Homo sapiens: one gene and its partners. The protein of the gene in region 1 purifies or fractionates together with the protein of each later gene. This does not show direct contact. Each region holds a gene or a part of one and is shown on either strand. Other genes may lie near its edges.

Region 1 (3,500 bases):
TTTACATTTGTTGAATACGTGGTCTCTTCAACTAGACTGTGAATGTGCATGGGACAGTGGAAATAACAGTTTTGAAATCAGACCTGTGTTTAAATCTTACCTTTTTTGCTTTTTAGTACTTTAGTTTCCTCACATACGAAGGTAGTCATATCACTTAACATTCAAAGTTGTTGTGAAGGTTAGAGTTATGGTGTGTAAAGCATGTTATTTATAGTACGTGTTATTTACAGTGGTAGGCTTTTTATGAATAACAGTTATTTCTGCATTTCTCAAATAAACTTTGAGGACAGGTTCAGTGCTTCATTCATTCTTTATTTCCCCAATCAGTGCATGCAGGTAGTTAGGCCTGGAGCTGTTGGTTTAAGAAACATCAGCATATAAATGATAACTAAGAAGATTAAGTCAGGAATCCCAGGGAAGACTGCCTTGAGAGAGAAGAGAAGAGGACATTGGGCATTGAAGGGATGGACAGAAGGTAGAGGTTCTTCAGAATGGGAGAGATTGGGTTGTGCCAGAGGAGTCTTGCTGTTAACCCCAAAATCTGATCATATAGTGCGGTTAGTTATTTGACACTCTTTGGGTGGAACAGCCAAGCTTTGGAGCTGGGAACGTTTTGTTTTGCAAATAAAGTACAGCACTTATCTGACCAGAACCTGTGTCATACAGAATATATTAGGGAAAGGTGGTGGTGAAGGAAATTCTCCAATAATGGGAAAGGACATTTCCAGTATTTTGTTAGGACATTTTCTGTTTGATTCTCAACGGTATTTTGTACCCTTTTTTGTTTTTTAACAGACTTGTAAAGAAACCAAGGATGTTAGTGCTCTGACAAAAGCAGCTGATTTTGTGAAAGCTTTTATTCTCGGCTTTCAGGTGGAGGTGAGTAATTCCATGATATCTAAAATGGGGACTTTAAAAATATTCAATGTGAACATTTCAATGGATTAGGCATTAAAAAAAAAAAAGGCCAGGCACAGTGGCTCACACCTGTAATCTCAGCACTCTGGGAGGCTGAGGCAGGTGGATCACTTGAGGCCAGGAGTTCAAAATAATCCTGGCCAACATGGCGATACTCTCCATCTCTACTAAAAATACAAAAAAATTAGCTGGGTGTGGTAGTGCATGCCTGCAGTCCCAGCTACTTGGGAGGCTGAGGTGGGAGAATCACTTGAACCAGGGAAGCAGAGATTGCAGTGAGCCAAGATCACGCCACTGCACTCCAGCCTGGGCGACAGCGTAAGACTCTGTCTCCAAGGGAAAAAAAAAAGCTTTCTAGCTCTAGAGTTTGTGGATTTTAGTTCCATAGTGCTTTGCACTTTACTCTTTTTCAGGTGTGCAAATGGAAGGGGCTTCACGGTGTTTGTTTTTATATTATAGGATGCACTTGCCCTCATCAGGTTGGATGACCTCTTCCTAGAGTCTTTTGAAATTACAGATGGTGAGTGTGTGTTGGTCTGCGCTCTTGTGTCGCTGACTTTGTATTGTGATGTGACTCTCAGTTTTCTAATAGCATCAATTGAGCTGTATTTTTAGCAACTTATATATATATATATACACTTTGTGTCCTTTAGAGAAATTTAGTTTATGATTAAACTTTATGTGGAATGGGTGGTACACTAGAATGGCTTGCCTCCTGAGATCTTGCTTTTCTTGTTTAGTTAAACCCCTAAAGGGAGACCATCTATCCAGGGCAATAGGAAGAATCGCTGGCAAAGGAGGAAAAACCAAATTCACCATAGAGAATGTGACACGGACAAGGATAGTTTTGGCTGATGTGTAAGTATCTGATCTTGAGAAAATTATTGTCATAATTTATATTTGATCTTTTGTTTTAAGAAAGTCATAACAGTTGTATTTTATGCATAATGTTGCTGCTAAATCTTTGTCAGTGCAGATGCTCCTCATAAATCCATCATAAATTGAAAATATCATAAGTCTAAAATGCATTTAATATGCCTGACTTATGGAACATTATAGCTTAGCATAGCCTATCATAAACATGGTCAGAACACACATTAGCCTGCAGTTGGGCAAAGTCATCCGACACAAATTCTACTTTATGACAGAGTGTTGAATATTGAATACTGTACTAAAAATGAAAAACAGAATGGTTGTATGTGTATTTGAAGTAGAGCATTCTGAATGTGTATCACCTTTGCACCCTTGTAAAGTTGAAAAATCCCAGTTCGAACCGTGTTAAGTTGGGAATCATCTGTATACTTTTGGGTGAATAGATGGTCACCAACTTTGAAAGAGGCTTAAGTTGAGAAAATTTAAGAAATTATATATTCTTTTCTCATTTAACAATGAGGAAATGCTATTAAAAGAAATTATTACAGGTGAAGATTTAAATAATATCTCGGGTTGGGCACAGTGGCTCACGCCTGCAATCCCAGCACTTTGGGAGGCTGAGGCGGGCGGATCACCTAAGGTCAGGAGTTCGAGACCAGTCTGGCCAACATGGTGAAACCCTCTCTCTACTAAAAATACAAAAATTAGCCGGGCATGTGGCATACGCCTTTAGTCCCACCTACTCGGGAGGCTGAGGCAGGAGAATCACTTGAACCTAGGAGGAGGAGGTTGCAGTGAGCCGAGATCATGCCACTGCACTCCAGCCTGGGCGACAGAGTGAGACTCTGTCTCAAATAAATAAATACATACATACATACATACATACATACATACATACATACATACTTACTCAAGGGAATCTATTAAATCACTAGGGGAGAACAAGCAATCACTATTTCAGATGCCCTTGTGAGTCTTTAGAAGTATATATCTACTTTATGTATATACATATATATGTTAAGGCCTTTTATAAAAGGAGGGGAATATCGTACATTAGGCAAAACTAGAGAGCAGTTATATGTGAACATAAACAAGATGAGAGGGGCTTAAAATAAAGGTGCCAGAAGTGAAGCTGGGATTACCCCTGTCTGAGGTTGAAGCTGCCCAGGCTGGGGATCTTACTGGCAGATGGCTCAGAGATTATATAATGCCATGAAGTTGGGAAACTGAACAGTTGACTGAGAGGAGGAGGGTTCTGCCTATGACTAAATTCTGAAATAATTTCATTTAATATCTCAATTTTGCTCCATACTGAAGGACTCTTCATTATATAGAACCTAAATTTTGTACATTCTTTACACTTTAAGGATAACTATACTACTGTGTTGGTGGCCCTCTTTACCTGAAGCCAGGCATATAATTATATTGTTTGATCTTTTATGGATTGAGCCTAGAGTCAGAAATATGGAGCCTTGGGAGAAGCTATTTTGAACTGGAAATGTGCAAATGCACACCACATTTAAAAATATGGCCAAGCATGGTGGCTCACATCTGTAATCCCAGCACTTTGGAAGGCTGAGGCAGGTGGATGGCGTGATCTCAGGAGTCTGAGACTAGCCTGGGCAACATAGTGAAACCCCTTCTCTACAAAAAAATACAAAAATTAGCCGGGTGTGGCGGCCCACACCTGTAGTCCCAGCTACTTGGGA
Region 2 (3,500 bases), on another chromosome or scaffold:
ATGTCACTCATAAGGTCTTTTATTCTTCTAAGATTTACATAGATCAAAGACTTCTTGCTAATATTGAAGAGATGTCCTGACTTTAACCTACTTCAGTGTCTACTATAGTATATGGAGTAACTCTCAAATTTAGCAGCTCATATGATTCTTCTTTAACCCTATTGGGTGGTCTCAGTTATTTCTACAAATAGAGGCCCAGGACAGTGAAGTGAGTTACCTAGGATCACGCAGGTAATTAAGAGCAGAGCCTGAACTAGATACTGGGGTCCAGTATTCTTTCCATTTTATCCTTAAAGCTGTCATAAGGTCCATATTCTTGTAAGTAGCAGAATCTTTCCTTGTCTCTCTTCCCACCACCTGTTTTCTTAGAAGCCGATCCTGCCGGATACCTCCTAAACTTTCCTCAGGAAGTTGTTTGCTTCTAGTAATTTCTTTCTCAGTGCAGAAGGATTTTTGAAATATTTTTGGTTTGTTCAGTGCCTTATATATTTCTACTGAGTTTAGTGTTCAATGGTGTATGAATTGTTGAAGAGGCCAATCTGAATTAATGAAAAGTATCAATAATTGCCATGTCTTTCATAGCTAACATTTCGAAATAAAGAATATTAAAAATACAGTTTTAAAGTCAAGCTTAATTTCTACCAGCTTTATTTCTGCTTTTAGTTCACTGATTAACTGTTTTGTTTGATTCCAGGTTTGCTCACCTTATAAATGTGGAATTTTTTGATGATCTGTTAGTAGTTCTTCATACTCTCATTGAGTCTGGTGTAAGTAATAATAAATTATTTTTTAAAAGATATAAATGGTAATTACTATTTTAAAAATTTTTCAGGTTTATTGAGATATATTTTGTATACAGTAAAACCCCTTTTAGATGTACAGTTTATGAATTTTGACAAAGGCCTATGATCATATGATTACCACCACAGTCAAGATGTAGAACGTTTTCAACCATTGGAGAGTTTTAAGCAGGAGGGTTGTCTGACCTGTTTTCTTTTTTTTTTTTTTAAATTGATGCATAATAGATGTACATGGTTTCAGGGTATATGTGATAATTAAATATATTCATATAATATAGTTTGTAAATATTTTACTTGGGATATCAGTCACCTTAAATATGTGTCTTTATGTGACAACCATTCAAATTCTTCCCTCCTAGCTATTTTGAAATAGATAATAGATTATTGTAAACTATAGTCACCCTGTAAATCTGCCTCATACTAGGTTATCTTAAAGATAACCTTTATAGGTCTTTTTTTTCTTTTTTGAGATAGGGTCTCACTCAGTTGCCCAGGCCGGAGTGCAGTGGTGCAATCACAGCTCACTGCAGCCTTGACCTTCCAGGGCTCAGGTGATCCTCCCACTTTAGCCTTTTGAGTAGCTGGGACTACAGATGTGGGGCACCATACCTGGCTAATTTTTCTATTTTTTTGTAGAAATTTTTTTTTTTTTTTTTTTTGAGAGGGAGTCTTGCTCTGTCACCCAGGCTGGAGTGCAGTGGCGTGATCTCGGCTCACTGCAAGCTCCGCCTCCCGGGTTCACACCATTCTCCTGCCTCAGCCTCCCGAGTAGCTGGGACTACAGGCGCCCACCACCATGCCCGGTTAATTTTTTGTATTTTTAGTAGAGACAGGGTTTCACCGTGTTAGCCAGGATGGTCTTGATCTCCTGACCTCGTGATCTGCCCGCCTCGGCCTCCTGAAGTGCTGGGATTGCAGGCGTGAGCCACCGCGCCCGGCCCTGAGAGATGGGTTTTTGCCATGTTGCCCAAGCTGGTCTTGAACTCCTGGGCTCAAATGATCTGCCTGCCTCAGCCTCCCAAATTGCTGGGATTACAGGCTTGAGTCTTTGCTCCTGGCCTTAAAGTTCTTTTTTAAAGCTATAAATGGCAATTACCATTCTTAATATTCCATCCCCCTCACCCCCCCCTTTTTTTTTTAAAGGACCTAAGCTATCAAGAAAGTCTTCACTGTGTCCAGACTGCTTTTCATATTCTTTCTGGACAAGGTATGATATTTTCTTAATCAAGTTTTGTTTGCCTTACCTTTGAATGCTATAACATACCTAATTGGTGTTTGTTGTCATTTCAAAGGTGATGTTCTGAATATTGATCCATTGAAATTCTACACACATCTCTACAAAACACTGTTCAAATTACATGCAGGTATGTATGTTTAGATAATGTTTCTTTTATATGTATTTATGTTTTAAGAATATGTTATGACCCATCATTGTAGACAAATGAGAAATAGGAACAGGTACATAAAATGGTGACTTTCCAGTGCCATGCATCTGTATTTAATCTTATGTAAGACTTGGAGAAAGAGCTTCTGGAATTGACTGGAGATGCAGTAAGTATAGCCCGCTGTATCTCCTTAGCAGTATAGCACTACCTCATTGATTAGAGAAATGGTTTGGGACAGGTACAAAAGTTTATCTTGGGTTTATCTGAAGTTCAGTCCAGTTGCGTAATGAAAAAGTAATGAGAACAGCTCTGAAGAATATGTCTGCTGTTTTAGGTGCTACCAATGAAGGTGTTGAGATTGTACTCCAGTGCCTTGATGTCATGCTAACTAAGCGCAGAAAGCAAGTTTCTCAGCAGCGAGCTCTTGCCTTCATCAAACGCCTTTGTACCCTTGCTCTTCATGTTCTTCCAAATTCAAGTATTGGCATTTTAGCAACTACCAGAATATTAATGCATGTAAGTAGTGATACAAATGAACAGAGCTAAGTTCTTATAATGCAATGATTTTTTTTGTTTGAGGCATGTCTTTTCCCCCCTTTTATATTATTTCAATTACAGAAGTAATTCACACTTGTAACAAAATCAGGTGACAAAAGAGGTATATAAAATTGAAAAAAAGCATTTTATACCTATTGACACTTCTCAGTGTCATTAGGTGGGTATCCATTTACCATTTGGTGGGTATTTTTCCAGCAGCCTTTTAAAGTTCATATATAAACACATACACATAGAAACAACTCAACTTTGTATTTTAATGGAAAGAGGATTATGCTATATATTCTACCACTTTTTTAACCTTAGCATTTAATCATGGTAAACACATTATAATGTCACTACTCTCTTTATGTAAGGTTTATTTAATTCTTTGCTTAACAAACACCATAGTTCTGACTATGTGCCTTCCAGTTATAAATGCCTTACAAAAATTTAATTTTCATAACTCTGAGGTAGCTACTATTCTTGTTCCTATTGTACATGTGGGAAAACTGAGGTCCAGAGAGGTTAAGTGTCTTGGCTTGAGTAGCAGTGCCAGTCAGTGGTAGAAGTGATATTCAAATGTAGGCAGTCTGGTTTTTCTGCTTCTTTCTATTTCTCTTGATATAGGTTATTTCTTTTTTTGCTATTACAAATGATGCTATAGTGAATATCTTTATGTATTTATCTGATGTAATTATTTCTATCAGATTTCTAAAAGTGTGATTGCAAGGTGAGAAGCATATTTTTTTCTTTTGCAAGATAAAATTAATTTTCAAAG
Region 3 (3,500 bases), on another chromosome or scaffold:
GCTCACGCCTGTAATCCCAGCATGTTGGGAGGCCGAGGCGGGTGGATCACTTGAGGTCAGGAGTTTGAGACCAGCCTGGCCAACATGGCGAAACACCATCTCCATTAAAAATACAAAAATTAGCTGAGTGTGGTGGCACAAGTCTGTAATCCCAGTTACTGCGGAGGGTGAGGCAGGAGAATCGCTTGAACCTGAGAGATGGAGGTTGCACTGAGCCGAGATCATGCCACTGCACTCCAGCCTGGGCAACAGAGCAAGACTCCATCTCAAAAAAAATTAAAAGAGTGCTCCGAGTATTGAGTAGTAGCTGAGTAGGCTTTTAAGTAAAAAAAAAAAAAAAAAAAAAAAACTAGGCTCAGATCCTGGTTCTGATACATACTTTGGTTCTGTGTATGTATTCTTTATAAGTGACCTTATATCCTTTCTGAACGTGGGACACACTTTTCTTTTTCTTAAATTAGCTGCAGGAAAAGACAGTAAATGACTAGCTAAAAAGGGTACTATAATAATCCAAATACAAGACAAAAAGTGGGCCCATGATTAGGACAACAGGAGCAGAGTGTGACACAGATGTCTCATGACCACCGTCTCCACATATATAATTCATACAGACAGCTTACAAATAGCATGAAAAAGCCAATAATACTTGGTAGCTTACTATTTCTATAACTTCAGATAATTTATTTTTACTCACTTGATTTTGGCAGAAGTTTTTATATTAGTCACCCGCTGGATTTCATCTTGCAGACTCATTTCAACATTAACCTCAGGATCTTCCTCCTCTCCTTTGCTAGAATGTAATCTAGAGGGAAGAAGAAAAGTATATCATGCTCTTATTTTTCTAGAAGCAGCTTTGCTCTTACTTGAGTTCAAAATCTGGCCCCTTGACCAACAAACTGTGTTATTCTGGAAAAGTCACTTAACCACACAGGATTACCATGATAATTAAACAATGTAGTATAAGTGGAAATGCTTTGTACACTACAATGTCATAAAGTATTATTTCACTTAATAGGTACCCTTAAGAAATGGATTCTGAATGCAATAGCCCATAAAATTTCTTGTAACAAGGTCCTTGTAATTCCAACTATTCCACTGAAATGTCTCCGGTTATTTTTCTAATTTCAGGACTTTTTAGAAAACTCATTAACCTGCACTTAACAATCCAACCATGTTAAATAAACCAGAATAGGTATCAAAAGATTTGCCAAATCAGATGATTTTCTGTCTCTCTGAGACTTGACAAATTTGGGTTATCGATACCTCACAAGTTCTTTAACTTTTAATGGTAATTGATAAGACAGTAAATATGAAAGAAGCCAGTTTTTTTTCAGTAACATGGGGCCTACCCAGGATACTTCATTATTAATGTAAGTATTAAGAAAACATACTTTGCTTTCTTTCTAGCTTTCTTCATCTTCTTATCCATTTTCTTCTGAATTTCCTTTTTGGAAAGGATACAAAACAATTCTAGCACAGAGTCAGTTCCCTAGAAAGGCAAAAGGTTAATGTGAGTCAAGGAGAGGTAATTTGTAATTTACCTAATTCTCAATTAAAAGTAAACAACAATATTTATTTTTCTTCCCTTAGTAGTTGTATTACCTTGGACAACTTAATCTCTCTGGGTTTGCTATCTCATCTGTAAAATGAGGATACCATTTCCTACTTGTAGCATTGCTCTGAAGGCTGAACAAGAAGTTAAATGCTCTTAAATTGCTTAGAAGAGCAAGCATTTAATAAATGGTTGCTAATAATAATACTGGTACAAAAGTAATTGCAATTATTACTTTTTAAATGGCAAAAACCACAATTACTTTTCCACCAACCTAATAGTAATTATTAATATTTTTGTTGTTATGCTAATAAAGCTAGAGATTATAGGTCCACACAGTACCATATAATGAATTATTAACATGAGTCAAGAAAAAGTCATCTTTACATTGAATATGAAAGAATGAGTGTTTGGAAGGAACAGCCTAGTCCTTGTTATTTTCTCCTAAGTATGGTACTCACATGGCAAGCAAGAATCCTGCCTGTCTTGTCGACTGCAAGGTTTACAACTCTGTCTCTTCCTTCCCGCATTATGGAACCAGCTTTTCTGCATGAAAGGATTCGCTACAGAAGAAGCAAGAGCAGATGAAGGTTAGATGTAAGTTCTGCTGAACTTCTGAAAAAAACATAATTCTAATAAGTGCAAGTGACAAAAATATTCCCTAAAGTGATGATTCCCTAAAAATCTGCAATTCTTACTTTCCCATTATTCAACACAATTAAACTTAAGAAATGAAAATGAATTACATCCTCAGGGGCTTCATCCGTCTCAAAGGCACCATCCTCTGCCTCAAGAGTATCTTGTATTCCAGGAGAAGATCCTTTGATTTTCTTGGGGTCTGGTTCTTCCGGGTCTTCAATCTGTTTTATAAAAATGAGAAAATAAAAGCTGAAATAGTATGTTCCAGGAGGCATGTTGTTGTTGTTGTTGTTGTTTTGTTGTTGTTGTTGTTGTTGTCGGAGACAGAGTCTTACTCTGTCGCCCAGGCTGGAGTGCAATGGCATGATCACATCTCACTGCAGCCTTGATCTCCTGGGCTCAAGCCATCCTCCCACCTCAGCCTCCCAAATAGCTGAAACCACAGGCACACACCACTGTGCTTGACTAATTTTTAAATTTTTTGTAGAGACAGGTTCTTGCCATATTGCCCAGGCTGGCCTCAAACGTGTGTGTGGACTCAAGTGATCTTCCTATCTCAGCCTCCCAAAGTACTGGGATTATAGGCATGAACCACTGTGCCTGGCCCAGGAGGTAACTCTTAATCCTGAAGACTTAGAAATCTTTCTTATGGCCAATAACAGCTTCTAATCAGTGATCTCCCTTATCAAACCTCTTCAGTAGCAAGGCAGGTATCAGAACTTATTAAAAACTGACTACATAATATACAAACAAAATATTACTTATTATACTATCTCCAAAAACTTTCTATAGCATAAGGACTACTGTTTAGTGACAATGGTGAAAAAATAATGACCCCACTCTTCACTAACTTCAAAATTTTCTGTATTTAGGTGAAAGGTTGACCATATTATAGAACAAAAAATTCAAATTGGCATTAGGAATTGCAAAAGCATCGCAAGACAGGTAGATACATTTTCTCCTTAAATAAAGAAAAGATAACCCCTAGCCTACTAATGTAACTCCCATCGAAATGGCTGCTGGACCCAGCACACACCGAAATTCAGCTAAACCTAAGGTCTGCAAGCTTTTCTTCTATGTAAATTCTTTGAATGTCTAAGAAAAAGTTATAGATCTTTTCAGAATATACATATTTATAAACATAAAATTCTACATATATATTTGAGGGGAAAGGTTCACAGATATTCTGAAGGCCATCCATGGACACCCAAAGGTCCAAGAATATCTGATTAAGAGTGCCACAAACTAAAACATTAGTATTACCAGAAGCTGTAAGCCTAAAGCTAACCTGAGCTCAAATAAATAAGGA
Region 4 (3,500 bases), on another chromosome or scaffold:
GCCAAGGCTTTTGAAGCCAGCAGATACTGGGTGAAGTTGCTGTATGAATATAATAATAAGAACCGTTTTTGTTCAGCTTGATGAAAAAACTATTCATGTTCTAAATGAAAATGTGAAGATCATCTAATTCTGACAGAAAACCACCTGTGGACATGGTCTTGTTTCTTTTTATTTCTTCTGTTTTCTACAAAAGATGGCAATATTTATTTAAAGTGCTTTAACAGGATATCCCAGTTAAAGCTTTGACAGACTGTTTATAGTTCACTTCTGCCCAGGGGCAATTAAAGGCACATTACAGGATAAGCGAGATGACTCCCCGGCCACAGGAGGAGGATGTGTGGGTAGGATTATTAATGTTGAAATGAATTATGATAGAGTGACATGTCTGCAAGAGCACCATGGGTTAGTAACTTAACAAGAATTCATATGCAGAAACCCATAATTCTCAGCAGTTCTTTAGGGTAAATGAAACTAAAGTTTAGGGAGAGAGAACAAGGAGAATTTGCAAAGATATGTATGACAGTATTTAAAAATGTTCTTCCAGCACAAAGACATTAATCTTCCTTTGTCAAAATAATTCTTTCTGCATGAAAAGTTGGCATGGGGCTCCCAGGCTTCAGGTAAGATGGGAGAAAGGGAGCGTTTCTTTTTTTTTGTACCAAAGTACTCAATCTTCTGATCTTCCTTGACTTTCACGACATAGGCATATGTCTACTCTGACCAGTTTGTTTCATTTATTGTGGTAAGATGTGCTTGTCTTGTGCTTTCCTGGTGCAGAAAAGGAGCTGCCTCGCTCATGCTTGGTGGCCTTTTTGTTCCTACACACAGTGGTTCTCGTACATGGTGGCTACCACATCCTGGTGTTTGTCTATACTGGGAGAATCAGGCGTTCCAAGTCATCTTGGCTGCCCTAGCTCTGAGCTTCAGGGGATATATGACTCAGAAATGCTATGCTTTCTGGAATTTGGATATTTCATTTTTATTTGTTTCTTGGTAAATTCTCTTTTGACTTAGGAGAAGCTAACTATTTGGAAAGGTCTCTCAGAACTCTAATTACAAATATATGGTACCTTCTTTATATTGATCTCATTTTTAAATACCTAGTCCTGGAGGAAGAGCTAAATATGAATACAGTGATGAGCTGTGTAGGGGATCTCACAGGAACACAGTCAGATTTCAAGTTGAAAATAGATTCAGTTGATAATACTTAGTACTAGATTCTCCTGAATCGACTTTGGGAATTCTGAGTCAACCTAAGGACTATATTACAAAGGATCAGACCTTGACTTTTAGGCCAGGTGTAGTGGCTCATGCCTGTAATCCCAGCACTTTAGGAAGCCAAGGCAAGTGGATCACTTCAGTCCAGGAGGTTGAGACTAGCCTGTGCAACACAGCGAGACCCTGTCTCTACCAAAAATACAAAAATTAGCCAGGTGTAGTGTAGCACCTGCCTGTAGTCTGAGCTACTGAGGAGGCTGAGGTTGGAGAATCAACTTTAACCCCGGATATGGAGGCTGCAGTGAGCTGTGATCATGCCAGCCTGGGCAAGGAGCAAGACCCTCTCTCAAAAACGAAAACAAAAAAGACACAGAACTTGACTTTTAACAGGAGGCATAGTAATAGCAAGCATAAGATTGTTTTAACATAGCATTTAAGATAATTTACGCATTTAGAAAATTAATTCTGGCTGGTTGTAGTAGCTTATCCTTAATCCTAACCCTATGAGAGGCCAAGGCAGGAAGATCACCTGAGGCCAGGAGTTTGAGACCAGCCTAGGCAACATAGCGAGACCCCCGCTCTCTACAAAAAATTTTTTTTAAAAAACATAGCTGGGCATGGTGACACACTCCTGTAGTCCCAGCTACTCAGGAGGCTGAGGCGGGAGGCTTGCTTGAGGCCAGGAGTTTGAGGGAGCTGTGATCACGCCCCTGCACTCCAGCCTGGGCAACAGAATGAGGCCCTATATCTAAAAAAAAGAAAAATGGACAAGAAAATTCTATATTGATTGAAGCCCAGCTAAATAGAAAAAAAAAAATTCTAATAGGCCATTTTAAAGACTTTGGAAAAATTCTTAGCTAGAGTAAAACAGAAGCAATCCTTTCTTTCCTGGTTCTCACATCTCCATTCTCACCTTCATTCCCCTTCCCCTCCATTTGTTTCAAGTATTTTTCTTTTCTATGTGTGTCTTTATGTAAATTTAAATTTACCTACAAGATATTATGATATTAAGATATTTCATTCTGCTTCCTGTTTTGTCACTTGTTCTTTAAGATCCAAGTCCTTGGCTCCATGTGCATCTAATCCTTGCCATAAGCCCTGCATCGTACTTCATATTCACCATATTGAACTATTCACCCTCAAGTAGTCACTATTAAATGTCACACTGTTGTAGCGACTACAAATGCAAGCTCAGTAACTGAAAAGATAACATTAAATTTTGTTTTTTAATTGGTTTCCTGTGTCAATTTCATGTTTCGGGAATTTGTATGGACAGATAGACACCAGAGAGATATGCGTATTTCACCTGCATGCTTGAGGCTAGAGAAACATGATTTATTCAGAACTATTTCAAATACTGTAACTAACCTGGTAATTTTGTTTAGGAAAACATTAAATTCGGAATAGAAGGCAATTCAGAATACCTGTCTGTTATCTTTGTCTTGTCATTTTTGAGATACTCAGTTCCTGGAAAATATTATGATAATCCATCTTGCTATGTAGTATTTCAAGTTATATGTTGAGCCTCTGAGCTTGCAGAGTGAACATTTCTATTCATAGACAGTGCTGTTGACATCAGTGGGGAGATGGCACAAGCTTTGTGCCCTAGGAAAGTTTAAAAGCTAGAACATTACACTGCAAACCCTATGTCAGGAAACTTTGTTGCAGCAACTAGGCAAGGAAACCCTACCACTGTACCCATACCTTGTTTTAGTAGAATTATGTTTCTTTGCTAAGAAGTCTGGTGACTCTCACACCCCATCTCAGCACTTTCCTGGATTCCAAGGCCCTGGTGCCCTGAGCACACAACTTCCCAGGTTCCTTTTATTGTTTCTGATAAGAACTCGAATTAGAGGCAGCGTCTGGTACTCACCAGGGGTGTGGTCCCATGGGTGACATTCTTGCTCCATCATTTCTTACCCAGGTAACCTTGAGTATGGCGCCTAAATCCTCTCTTCCTTTCAAATTGCCTGGTCTGTAAAATGGATGCAGTGAATGGTAGCTATGCCACAGGTGTTTTGTGTGAGAATTAAATGAGAGGAGTTATATCAATAACACTTAGAGGCATGCGGTGCCTATAGTGAGGGCTTGTTTTATGTTGTCGTTTAACCCTTTCTTTCTCAGCCCTCCCCCACTCCACATCCCCTCCCACTGGCAATGTACAAATTGCAGCTTCCTGCCTCTTTCCTGCTATCTCGCTCCCTGGATGACATCCCTGCGTTTCCACCTCTCTCTCCCCTAATCTTAGCTGTTTTCACCCTTTCCCCACAGCATTGCCTTGA
Region 5 (2,598 bases), on another chromosome or scaffold:
TAGTGTGAAAGCCGTAAGTGCCACCCAGCAGGCGTTTGAAAACAAGAAATCATTCTTCTGTGGAAGGAGAATGTGCCATCTCAGCTACCCTCAGTCCGCCAGGCAGCCCAGTCTGTGTATTCATATGAAGTTGTGAAAACCATGAGTGTGTGCCATGGCCATCGTGTCTACACACAGCCACTATTGTTCCTGTGGGCTAGTCTCCAGCAAATTAAAACACTGGCATGGCCTAGGAAGGGCGTTGCGAGCTCCTAAATGGAAAGCTTCTCTGGGGGTAGGGAGATGAAGAGCCAAGATGCTGGTGAAGCAGGTGCAGTGAGGATCCAAGGCAAGGAATTGCCCTGAGGGAGGTGGCTGCATATGGAGAAAGGCAGTTCTCTGTGGGCAAGGCCAGCTTGCTTCAGGCTGTAGAGGGAATTTGGTCTGAAGCAACAGGGCATGAACTGTGACTTTGAGCTGCCAGGTTGTCTTCATCTCAGAACTTTCCTATCCTGGCACTCTCGTTACCTTTCTTCTATACCTTGGCCTCTGTAACTGCAGTCCAAAACAAGTTACAGCTGCCTTAATCCACTGAGATTCTCTATGAGGATGTACAGAAAAGTTTTCCTGTAATAATTTTGCTTATATGCTAACTCTTTTCATGTTAGCAAAGAATATTCTATGAATTAGAATGTTACTGTGGTAGATCTAAAGGAGAATGAACAGAAGGTGCTGGAGGACCTGTTAAACAATCTCTGGCTATTAAAAAACATCAAGATGAGAATTAAAGGCATATCCTGATATACTTGCCTGCTTGCACATGAGGCTGGGAGATCCCATGCCTGTTGAAGTTAACTCTAGCCCTGACCTCTATTGATCTTTTGGGAATGAGGGCTGATTTGAAGGTGCTGTTGCAGGATTTCATTTAGCTGCTGCCAGTTCAAGTGACCTGTCCCCAGGGCTGCAGCTGTATCCACCTGATTGCAGTAGGTGAGGGCTAACAGCAGAATTTAAAGTGGACCCTGGGCTGTGGAGCAAAGTGACTATCCATTTGGACTTTTGGATAATGTGGCAGGAGTCCCAGCTGTTTAATTTCTAGTCACATTTTCCAGAAAGTTGTTCTAAGTTGAGATTACTGACAAGATTTCTCAAGGGCAGGACCAGATATGTGAGAGACTTCTAGTTCAGAGCTGACCCCTCTAAGCCTCTGACACTTAAACACGAGTCCTGCTGTCCCCAGCACACAACTGCACTGAAGCCTTGTTCCTCTCGGCTGGTGTAGAGCTCATCTGCATGTTGTGTGCAGATACCAGTAGCCTCCCTGCTTGAACAGGCCTCTCCTAGGCTAGGCAGGTGTTCAGAGGCATGAAGGTCTGGGCAGGGGAAGGGCGTCTTCTGAAATGGGAGTTACCAGGTTTTTAAATGCTGCTATTGTTTTATTTACCATTTAAGGTCTTTTCTATTATATCTGAGTAACTAGTCAGTTTTTCTTACAGTGCTCATAGCAGTTGTATTTGAATTGTATTTTCAGTGAAATTTGTTTTACATTGCCATTTAAAATTGGCCTTTAACAGCTTCCCAACTAGCTTATAAGATTTTTTTTTTTAATGAAAACATAACCCATGAGGCTCAGATGCTGTTGAAGAAATAAATGGTATGTTGCTGCTGACAGTAGTGCTTGCCTATTGTAACAGCATTGGTTCTGCTGTAGCCTCGGTGACCATTTAAGTTGAATAAATCTGTCATTTTCACCCACAAACAGTTGTTGAGCCCCTGGATTTGGGTTGTCACTGTGGTTCTCCTGCCAGTGCTATAATCCAGTGTCGTAGGTGCAGGGTATGAATCAGCTCAGCCTCTTAGGAGAGAGGGGCTCTCAGCGAGGAGGGGGCGGGGGGGGGGTCACTATTTATCTTCCAGAGGCAGGGTTCATGGATTCCTGATGTTTAGAGGCGGAAGGGACCTTAGGTCACCTACTTCCACGGTTTTCATACTGTTCTCTGGGGCCTCGTGGAGAGGGAGCCTCCAGGCCCATTCAAAGCTTTATTAGATTTAAAAGTAAGATCTGGTATGAAGAAAGGTTTTGTTTGTTTCTTAAAATAAAAAGTCTGAAAATCACTAATCCAATCTCCTCCTTTTTCATTGAGGAAACTGAGACTCAGAGAGGGCCAAAGACATCCAGATTACCAATGAGTTAACAGCAAAATTTGAATAAAAGTCATTCTTGGCCAGGCACAGTGGTTCATGCCTGTAATCCCAGCACTTTGGGAGGCCGAGGTGGGAGGATCACTTGAGCCCAAGAGTTCAAGACCAGCCTGGGCAATATGTTGAGACCCATCTCTACGAAAAATATAAATAAACCTGTCTCTACAAAAAATATGAATAAACTAGTCAGGAATGGTGGTGCACACCTGTAGTCCCAGCTACTTGGGAGCCTAAGGTGGGAGGATCTCTTGAGCCTAGGAGTTTCAGGCTGTGGTGAGCCATGATCACGCCACTGCACTCCAGCCTGGGCAACAGAGGGAGACCCTGTCCCATAAAAAAAGGAAAATACTTTCCCGACTCCTAACCCTCTTCTTGTGCTCTTGGGCCTCCAGAAAGCCTGATGTAAATAGCTGTATT
Region 6 (3,500 bases), on another chromosome or scaffold:
GGTGACACAAGCCAGGAAACAATCTCAGCAAGCTGGGTGGGACCGTCCACCGCCAGCAGCATGTGTTGGGGCCAGGCAGGCAAGTGGCAGTGTCCACTCCAGCGTTCTTTCCTGTTCTGTGGGCTCCCCACACACCAGGCCGTGGCCCCAGAGACTGTGCTTGCAACACTGGATTCCTGGCTTTTGAAGAAGGATCTGACCTGGAGGGCTTGGCCTGTGCAACTGCATCGGACTTATCTAGAATCTGAGGAGCCCCAGCTCACTCTGGCCTTCATTAAATAAACACTCAGTGGGAGAAGCAGCACGTGAAATGTCCGTGGAGGTCCCTGACCAGGGATGGGCTGCTGCTGCCTGAAATTGGGTTGTGATGGGGTGTAGTGGGTCAGCGTGTCTGGTTGTCCGGGGATAGCTTTTCTCTGTGTGGTGGTCCAGTTTGGATGGAAAAGGGTAGAAGGAGCTGAGACTTAACGTTTGCTGCCTGTGTGCCTAGCAGCGTGCCTGACTCTTCTCAAACTCACACACGTTCCTGGAGATCAGCAGTTTTCATCATACACATTTTCCCTCTCTAAATATAAAGGGAGGGAGGCACAATTTGAAACCAGGGTATTAATCTGTAAACAGAAGTTGTGAGGCTACTTCATCCTGGCAGGAGCTGGTGTTCTGTCTCCGCTAGACCCTCCTAGGGGTCTGAAAACTCCACCGAGGCAAACGGGAATGTTCTTATGCCCCAGTGTACTCACAGAGGGACACTTGGCCTGCCTAATAGCTGGGCCTGCAACCTATGCCAGTAATAATTACCTTCATTCCTTTGAATCTGCCCAGCGCTGGGGAGACAAGGGTGTGTAGAAGCAGACACATGTTGCCTCATGGAGATTTATGTTCCAGGGACATTGTGACTTGCCCTTTCCTGCCAGCCTACTAGTACTTTCCAGAGACAGGCTCTGCCATGCTGAGTCTCCCCACCTTGTGTTCTTGTGGAGAAAAATCCCTCCTAAGCAAGCTGGCGTGGAGAAAGGGGCTGAAGGACTTTGACCATCAGGCTTTGCTGGGGGAGGTGATGTTGGCAACTGTGGTAGGTGCAGAGTCAGGCTGTGCTGGGAGGCGATGTTGGGAACTGTGGTAGGTACAGTCTCTGCCCTTGGGCTGCTTTCCTGAGCAGTTGCCCTGGAGCCGCAGGGGGTCAGAGGGGAGGCCCTCCTGCCATCTGGAAGGTCAGAGAGGCCTGGCCCTCACACAGCTCTGCCGTGGCAGAGGTCAGAGTCCCACCGTGTGGGGGACCTGAGCTCTCCCTATGCCTCCCAGGAGCATCTGATGATGGAACTGCTGGGAGAGGGGAGGGGTGGCATTCCTGCAGATTGGGTCCTTAGGGTGTGTTGAGGCACGTTCCCTGGACAGACCTTTAGTTACTGTTGATGTGCTTACCTGGCTGGCAGCCACCTAGCAAGGGCTCTGAAGTAGGTGGGCTGTTCTCCCAGTCTTTGGGGTCTAGGGACAGTTCTAGTCTAGTGAAGGAGCCAGGCAGGGCACAGTAATGACTTTAGTAGCACAGCTTGCAGGACCCTGCATTGGGAACCCCACTGAACCCTTGGCCCATCCAACCTCCTGGTTTTTTTGTTTTGTTTTGTTTTTTGTTTTTGTTTTTGTTTTTCTTTTAGTCAGAGTCCCACTCTGTCGCCCAGGCTGGAGTACAGTGGCATGATCTCGGATCACTGCAATCTCAGCCTCCCAGGTTCAAGCAATTCTCCTGCCTTAGCTTCTGAGTAGCTGGGATTACAGGCATGCCCCACTATGTCCAGCTAATTTTCGTGTTTTTAGTAGAGATAGGGTTTTGCCGTGTTGGCCAGGCTGGTCTCGAACTCCTGGCCTCAAGTGATCTACCCACCTTGGCCTCCCAAAGTGCTGGGATTACAAGTGTGAGCCACCTCCTGGTTTTCTGGGAAATATTCCCAGAGTCTTGGGGACTTCTCCCAAGTCACAGGTCCCTGGCAGAACTGAGACTGAAACCTGGTTTTGCTTTCCCACCCAGCCACTGTCTCAAAGTGTGGCGTTTCTCTGCTTCTGCTCTGTGGCCACAGTTGTAACCCTCTGGCCAAGTGGCTCCAGCCGTCTCTGAAGAGATACAGAGCTGGGGCTCTGGCCCTTTTTTGTGTCCACTTTCACCCGGGTAACTTTTTCCCTGGTGAAACCTACCTCCCAAATGTTTCTTAGAGGCAGCCTGGAGGGAGACCCGCAGTGGCTGTGAGCCTGGGGAGGGCTGGGTGGTGCTGGAGAGAGGTCTTATCAGATCTGGAGGTGTGGTTTGCTGCCTGCAGCTATGGGAATGCCTTCTTCCACGTCAGGGTTGTTTCCTCTTCTTGGAGTGGTCTGGGCTGCCTCAAAATCCAGGAAAGTGCGCCGCAGGTATTCTACTCCTGCCCGCTGGGTGTGTCTGGAGATGGACCATGCGGAGACGCTGGCCCACGGTGGCAGTGTCTGCAATGCCGGGGAGAAGCAGCAAAGCCTGTGGCCAAGTCTCTCTAAGCTATGCCTTTTTAAAAGGCCATCCTTTCAGAAGAGGCTGGTTGAGATCTCTTTTTTATGTTTAATTCAAAGGGAAAGCTGCATAGGTGCCTTTGGGGTTAGGGGAATGATCTTGGAGTAGAGAGGGCAGACACAGATGAAGAACGTGCTTGATCACCTGTTCTATGTTGAGCACTCCACTAGGCTCTCGGCATATGTTGCACCTTAACATTCACAATGATGCTATGAGGCCTTATCCTGATGTTGCAGATGAGGGAATTGCAGCTCAGAGGGATGGAGAGACTGTCTTAGCAGGTGGTTGAACCCAGGTTGACTGGTCTTGAGAACTTATGTTCAGAACTCCACAGCTGTTGCTGTGGCGGGGAGATTCTGTGCAGGGCCATGGTTGCTGAGACCAAGGAAATGGCCAATAATAAAAAGGGCTGGGCCGAGGGCATTCCGTGGCTCAACTCTAGATGTTTGGGCTTCCTGGTGGCCACCCAGGCTGTGCAGCCTCAGGGTTCGGGCATGGGTCTGCTTCCCTAATGTCCAGGCTAGCACATCCTCAAAGACAGGACTCTCAGCACCATGATGCAGCCCGCTCTACGCTTGTCTCATTCTGAGAAAGGAGAAGCTGCCTAGAGATCAGTTTACTCATAATTTTTTAAATGGCTACCTGTCTTATTCTTTCTGAACAGTTCCTCTGATAAACAGTGTATTCTTTAACTTTCTACTTTTAATTAAAATATTTACAAAATACATAATGATATATGTTCACTATAAAAAAGAAAGTACTAGATGTACAACAGTGAAAATCACCCATAATGCCACCTCTCAGAGTTAATTCCAGTGCACATTTTGTTGTATATTCTTCCTGCATTTGCATATAAATGTACATGTGTATATTTGTGGCACATACCATGTGCATTGCCTTGTAAATGTCTTCTGTCTGTATCAGCACATATACATATGCATCAGCACTATTAGTGGCTGCATTGTGT
Region 7 (3,500 bases), on another chromosome or scaffold:
CTGGTTCACTCCTCTTTAGGCAGCCTGGTGGTCCTCCACTCCCAGGAGCTCACCATAGTGATGACAGACTTAGCGTAGACACTCCATTGGCACAGCACACCCCAGCCAACTCCTGGGCCCATGCAGCCCTCCTGTCTCAGCCTCCTGAGTGCTGGGACCACAGGCACATGCCACCACACCCAGCACAGTGTTTCTTTTATAATTATGCCTGGAATTTGTATTTCTTCCCATACAGATACCTTCACTTGCTGGATGGAAATGAAAATTACCCGTGTCTTGTGGATGCAGACGGTGATGTGATTTCCTTCCCACCAATAACCAACAGTGAGAAGACAAAGGTAGGGTGGCATGTGTGTGAACATGGTGTGTCTTCTAGGCTGTTCCCTGTAGAATTAACACAAGTCTGCGGGGCGTGGTGGCTCAACACCGGTAATCCCAGCATTTTGGGAGACCGAGGTGGGCGGATCACCTGAGGTCAGGAGTTCAAGACCAGCCTGACCAATATGGAGAAACCCTGTCTTTAGTAAAAATACAAAATTCGCCGGGCGTGGCGGTGCATGCCTGTAATCCCAGCTACTCGGGAGGCTGAGGCAGGAGAATCACTTGAACCTGGAAGGCTGAGCATAGTGGCACATACCTGTAGTCTCAGCTACTCAGGAGGCTGAGGCAGGAGAATCGCTTGAACCCCAGGAGACAGAGGTTGCAGTGAGTCGAGATCGCGCCATTCCACTCCAGCCTGGGCAACAAGAGTGAAACTCCGTCTCCAGAAAAAAAAAAAGAAGAGGAAGAAAGAAAAAGAATTAACACACACAAGTATCTGCTGCATTGTGAGGTTTCATTGTGTGCAATAGAAAACGCAGCCCAGAGGGGTCAAAGGGCCCCCTGGCTTCTCAGAGCTACAGCTCACTGTTCATGCTCGGTGCTGCGTGACGGCCCGGGATGCTGTGTGCAGCACTGCAGTCTTCCTCTGTAAGGAGTGGGCTTGGTGTGTGTGACGCCATCTGCTTAATTGATTGATTGAGATAGGTCTTGCTGTGTTGCCGAAGTTGGAGTGCAGTGGCAAGATCATAGCTCACTGCAGCCTCAAACTCTTGGGCTTAAGCGATCCTCCCATGTCAGCCTCCTGAGTAGCTGGGACCACAGGTGCATGGCACCACACCTGGCTAATTTTTGTATTTTTTTGTAGAGATGGGGTCTTGCTGTGTTGTCCAGGCTGGTCTTGAACTCCTGAGCTCAAGCAATCCTCCCACATCAACCTCCCAAAGTGCTGGATTTACAGGTGTGAGCCACTGTGCCTGGCCACACAGTTTTGTAGATTTTTCCTGAGAACAAATGTTGCAGTTGCTGATGTCTACATTTGATAACTGTTCTTTTCTGAAATGTTTTTTTCTTTTAAGGTTAAGAAAACGACTTCTGATTTGTTTTTGGAAGTAACAAGTGCCACCAGTCTGCAGATTTGCAAGGATGTCATGGATGCCCTCATTCTGGTGAGTGTGGGGTGGCTCCTCCTGAGAAACGCTTTTGAGCGTGAGTGGTGCTCTGCTCCTTGACTTCCCACCCGTCCTGCTTGCCTCTTTTTTGCTTACTGTGTTGGCAGACAGCAGCATGTCTTCCCTGGGTCACCTCTCATCTCCAGGTTAAAAAGGTATTTTTTATTTGCAGAAAATGGCAGAAATGAAAAAGTACACTTTAGAAAATAAAGAGGAAGGATCACTCTCAGATACTGAAGCCGATGCAGTCTCTGGACAACTTCCAGATCCCACAACGAATCCCAGTGCTGGAAAGGACGGGCCCTCCCTTCTGGTGGTGGAGCAGGTCCGGGTGGTGGATCTGGAAGGGAGCCTGAAGGTGGTGTACCCGTCCAAGGCCGACCTGGCCACTGCCCCTCCCCACGTGACTGTCGTGCGCTGACGCCAGGGCCGCCTGTCCGCGTTTGTTTGGCCGGTTTTGCGGAGGTTTCTATGCGGCAATGCTGAATTATCCGTTAGATTTTCACCCCAGTTTTTTTGTTGGTTTTTTTTTTTGAGATGGAGTCTCGCTCTGTCGCCAGGCTGGAGTGCAGTGGCGTGATCTCGAGTCACTGCAGCCTGTGTCTCCTGGGTTCAAGCGATTCTCCTGCCTCAGCCTCCCAAGTAGCTGGGACTACAGGTGTGTGCCACTAAGCTCAGCTAATTTTTGTATTTTTAGTAGAGACGGGGTTTCACCATTTTGACCAGGATGGTCTTGATCTCTTGACCTCATGATCTGTCCACCTCTGCCCCTCAAAGTGCTGGGATTACGTGATCCACCCGCCTCAGCCTCCCAAAGTGCTGGGATTACAGGCGTGAGCTGTGCCTGGCCCACCCCAGCATTTTTTAAGATGTATGTATTCGTTGTTCTGTTTTTCCAGATGATTCTGTCGTAAAGTGATGCTATGTTGTCGTTACAACATCAAAGTGATTTTACGGTTTTTGATGGGATTATTCAAGTGTCAGAATTAACTGTTCAAAATGTTCTGAATCATGTAGATACATGGCAGGTAACTGTTTATGGGAGAAAAGTACAGTGCTGTTACGTGGCACTGTACAGTCATGTGCCACGTAACAGCGTCTGGGTCAGTGACGGACACTTACCTGACAGCGGATCCACAATATTCTCGTGCAGTGTGTTTGGAATCCTGGTCTGGGCTCTCGTCGTTGGCCTTGTAGATCAAGTAGGGGAAGTGAGTGATGTTCAGTCATGCTGCTGGGACACTTGGTTTTCCAGATGAAAACACATAAATAAAACTACATGCACCATCGAGGCTTGTGTAAAGACTCTGTGATCACACAGCAGCGGCTAAGCACACGTTTCTCATGTGTCACTGAGCGACACGTGACTGTCACTGGTTCGGAGACCCGAAAACTTGGGAAGCCAACCGATGTGCGTTTCCTTGAACGGCACGGTCACTTTCTATGACGCAGCATCTTGTAAAACCATATCATGCCAGGATGCAGCTTGGCATGTGCAAGGGCGTTGGGTTCTCCAGCTGGCAGTGATCATAATCTTGGGGGGAAAAGTTTTAATGTGACCTTAGAATTGGCAGAATTGCGTCTCTTCATACTGCTGTTGGATTGCTTTGTGGGGGTGGAGATGTGGAGACCCCTTCAGGCAAGCAGCCTGTAGGCTGAAGGCAGTGGCAGCACCTCACCCTGGCTCAGCGGGGCCAAGCGGAGGAGAGCGGCATCGGTGGGGTTTCCATCGTGTGCACGCTGGTGCTGCAGTGACAGGCAGGTGGAGCCCCAGGAGTGGACCAGACGCCTCTGCTTGGGAAGCATCGGCAGTCCTCAGCCAGCCGAGGGACAGATGGTAGCAAAAGCTGGAGGATGCTTAGGTTTTTGAGCCAAAAATCTTCATTTATGCGCCAGAAAGGTGGGTCCTGGGCGCCTTCTGTTGTAGACGTTTCCGTTGTGAATGTCCAGGTCAGACCCCCACGTCCATGTGTCTTCGTGTATGTCCAGGCACCACATGTGCGTGCACAC

Evidence for each region.
Region 2: the proteins of PNO1 (region 1) and NOC3L fractionate together in Homo sapiens (co-fractionation; one large-scale study listed by BioGRID). This does not show direct contact.
Region 3: the proteins of PNO1 (region 1) and WDR3 fractionate together in Homo sapiens (co-fractionation; one large-scale study listed by BioGRID). This does not show direct contact.
Region 4: the proteins of PNO1 (region 1) and MYB purify together in Homo sapiens (co-immunoprecipitation; one large-scale study listed by IntAct). This does not show direct contact.
Region 5: the proteins of PNO1 (region 1) and MTMR3 purify together in Homo sapiens (affinity purification with mass spectrometry; 3 studies listed by BioGRID and IntAct, with this or other methods). This does not show direct contact.
Region 6: the proteins of PNO1 (region 1) and KSR1 purify together in Homo sapiens (co-immunoprecipitation; one large-scale study listed by IntAct). This does not show direct contact.
Region 7: the proteins of PNO1 (region 1) and LRRC47 fractionate together in Homo sapiens (co-fractionation; one large-scale study listed by BioGRID). This does not show direct contact.

What each region holds. Positions count from the first base shown.
Region 1 is NC_000002.12:68,160,888-68,164,387, forward strand, and holds part of PNO1 (RNA-binding protein PNO1), read left to right. Parts: intron 1-795; coding exon 796-879; intron 880-1,377; coding exon 1,378-1,438; intron 1,439-1,658; coding exon 1,659-1,776; intron 1,777-3,500. UniProt on the Homo sapiens protein: Part of the small subunit (SSU) processome, first precursor of the small eukaryotic ribosomal subunit.
Region 2 is NC_000010.11:94,338,940-94,342,439, reverse strand, and holds part of NOC3L (nucleolar complex protein 3 homolog), read left to right. Parts: intron 1-694; coding exon 695-767; intron 768-1,943; coding exon 1,944-2,007; exon of another isoform or gene 2,008-2,012; intron 2,013-2,092; coding exon 2,093-2,164; intron 2,165-2,519; coding exon 2,520-2,701; intron 2,702-3,500. UniProt on the Homo sapiens protein: May be required for adipogenesis.
Region 3 is NC_000001.11:117,939,739-117,943,238, reverse strand, and holds part of WDR3 (WD repeat-containing protein 3), read right to left. Parts: intron 2,413-3,500; coding exon 2,299-2,412; intron 2,116-2,298; coding exon 2,014-2,115; intron 1,490-2,013; coding exon 1,392-1,489; intron 803-1,391; coding exon 695-802; intron 1-694. UniProt on the Homo sapiens protein: Part of the small subunit (SSU) processome, first precursor of the small eukaryotic ribosomal subunit.
Region 4 is NC_000006.12:135,212,308-135,215,807, forward strand, and holds part of MYB (transcriptional activator Myb), read left to right. Parts: intron 1-3,091; exon of another isoform or gene 3,092-3,193; intron 3,194-3,500. UniProt on the Homo sapiens protein: Transcriptional activator; DNA-binding protein that specifically recognize the sequence 5'-YAAC[GT]G-3'. Plays an important role in the control of proliferation and differentiation of hematopoietic progenitor cells.
Region 5 is NC_000022.11:30,028,771-30,031,368, forward strand, and holds the end of MTMR3 (phosphatidylinositol-3,5-bisphosphate 3-phosphatase MTMR3), read left to right. Parts: 3' UTR 1-2,098; downstream 2,099-2,598. UniProt on the Homo sapiens protein: Lipid phosphatase that specifically dephosphorylates the D-3 position of phosphatidylinositol 3-phosphate and phosphatidylinositol 3,5-bisphosphate, generating phosphatidylinositol and phosphatidylinositol 5-phosphate.
Region 6 is NC_000017.11:27,459,448-27,462,947, forward strand, and holds part of KSR1 (kinase suppressor of Ras 1), read left to right. Parts: intron 1-3,500.
Region 7 is NC_000001.11:3,779,499-3,782,998, reverse strand, and holds part of LRRC47 (leucine-rich repeat-containing protein 47), read left to right. Parts: intron 1-235; coding exon 236-338; intron 339-1,397; coding exon 1,398-1,487; intron 1,488-1,662; coding exon 1,663-1,911; 3' UTR 1,912-3,500.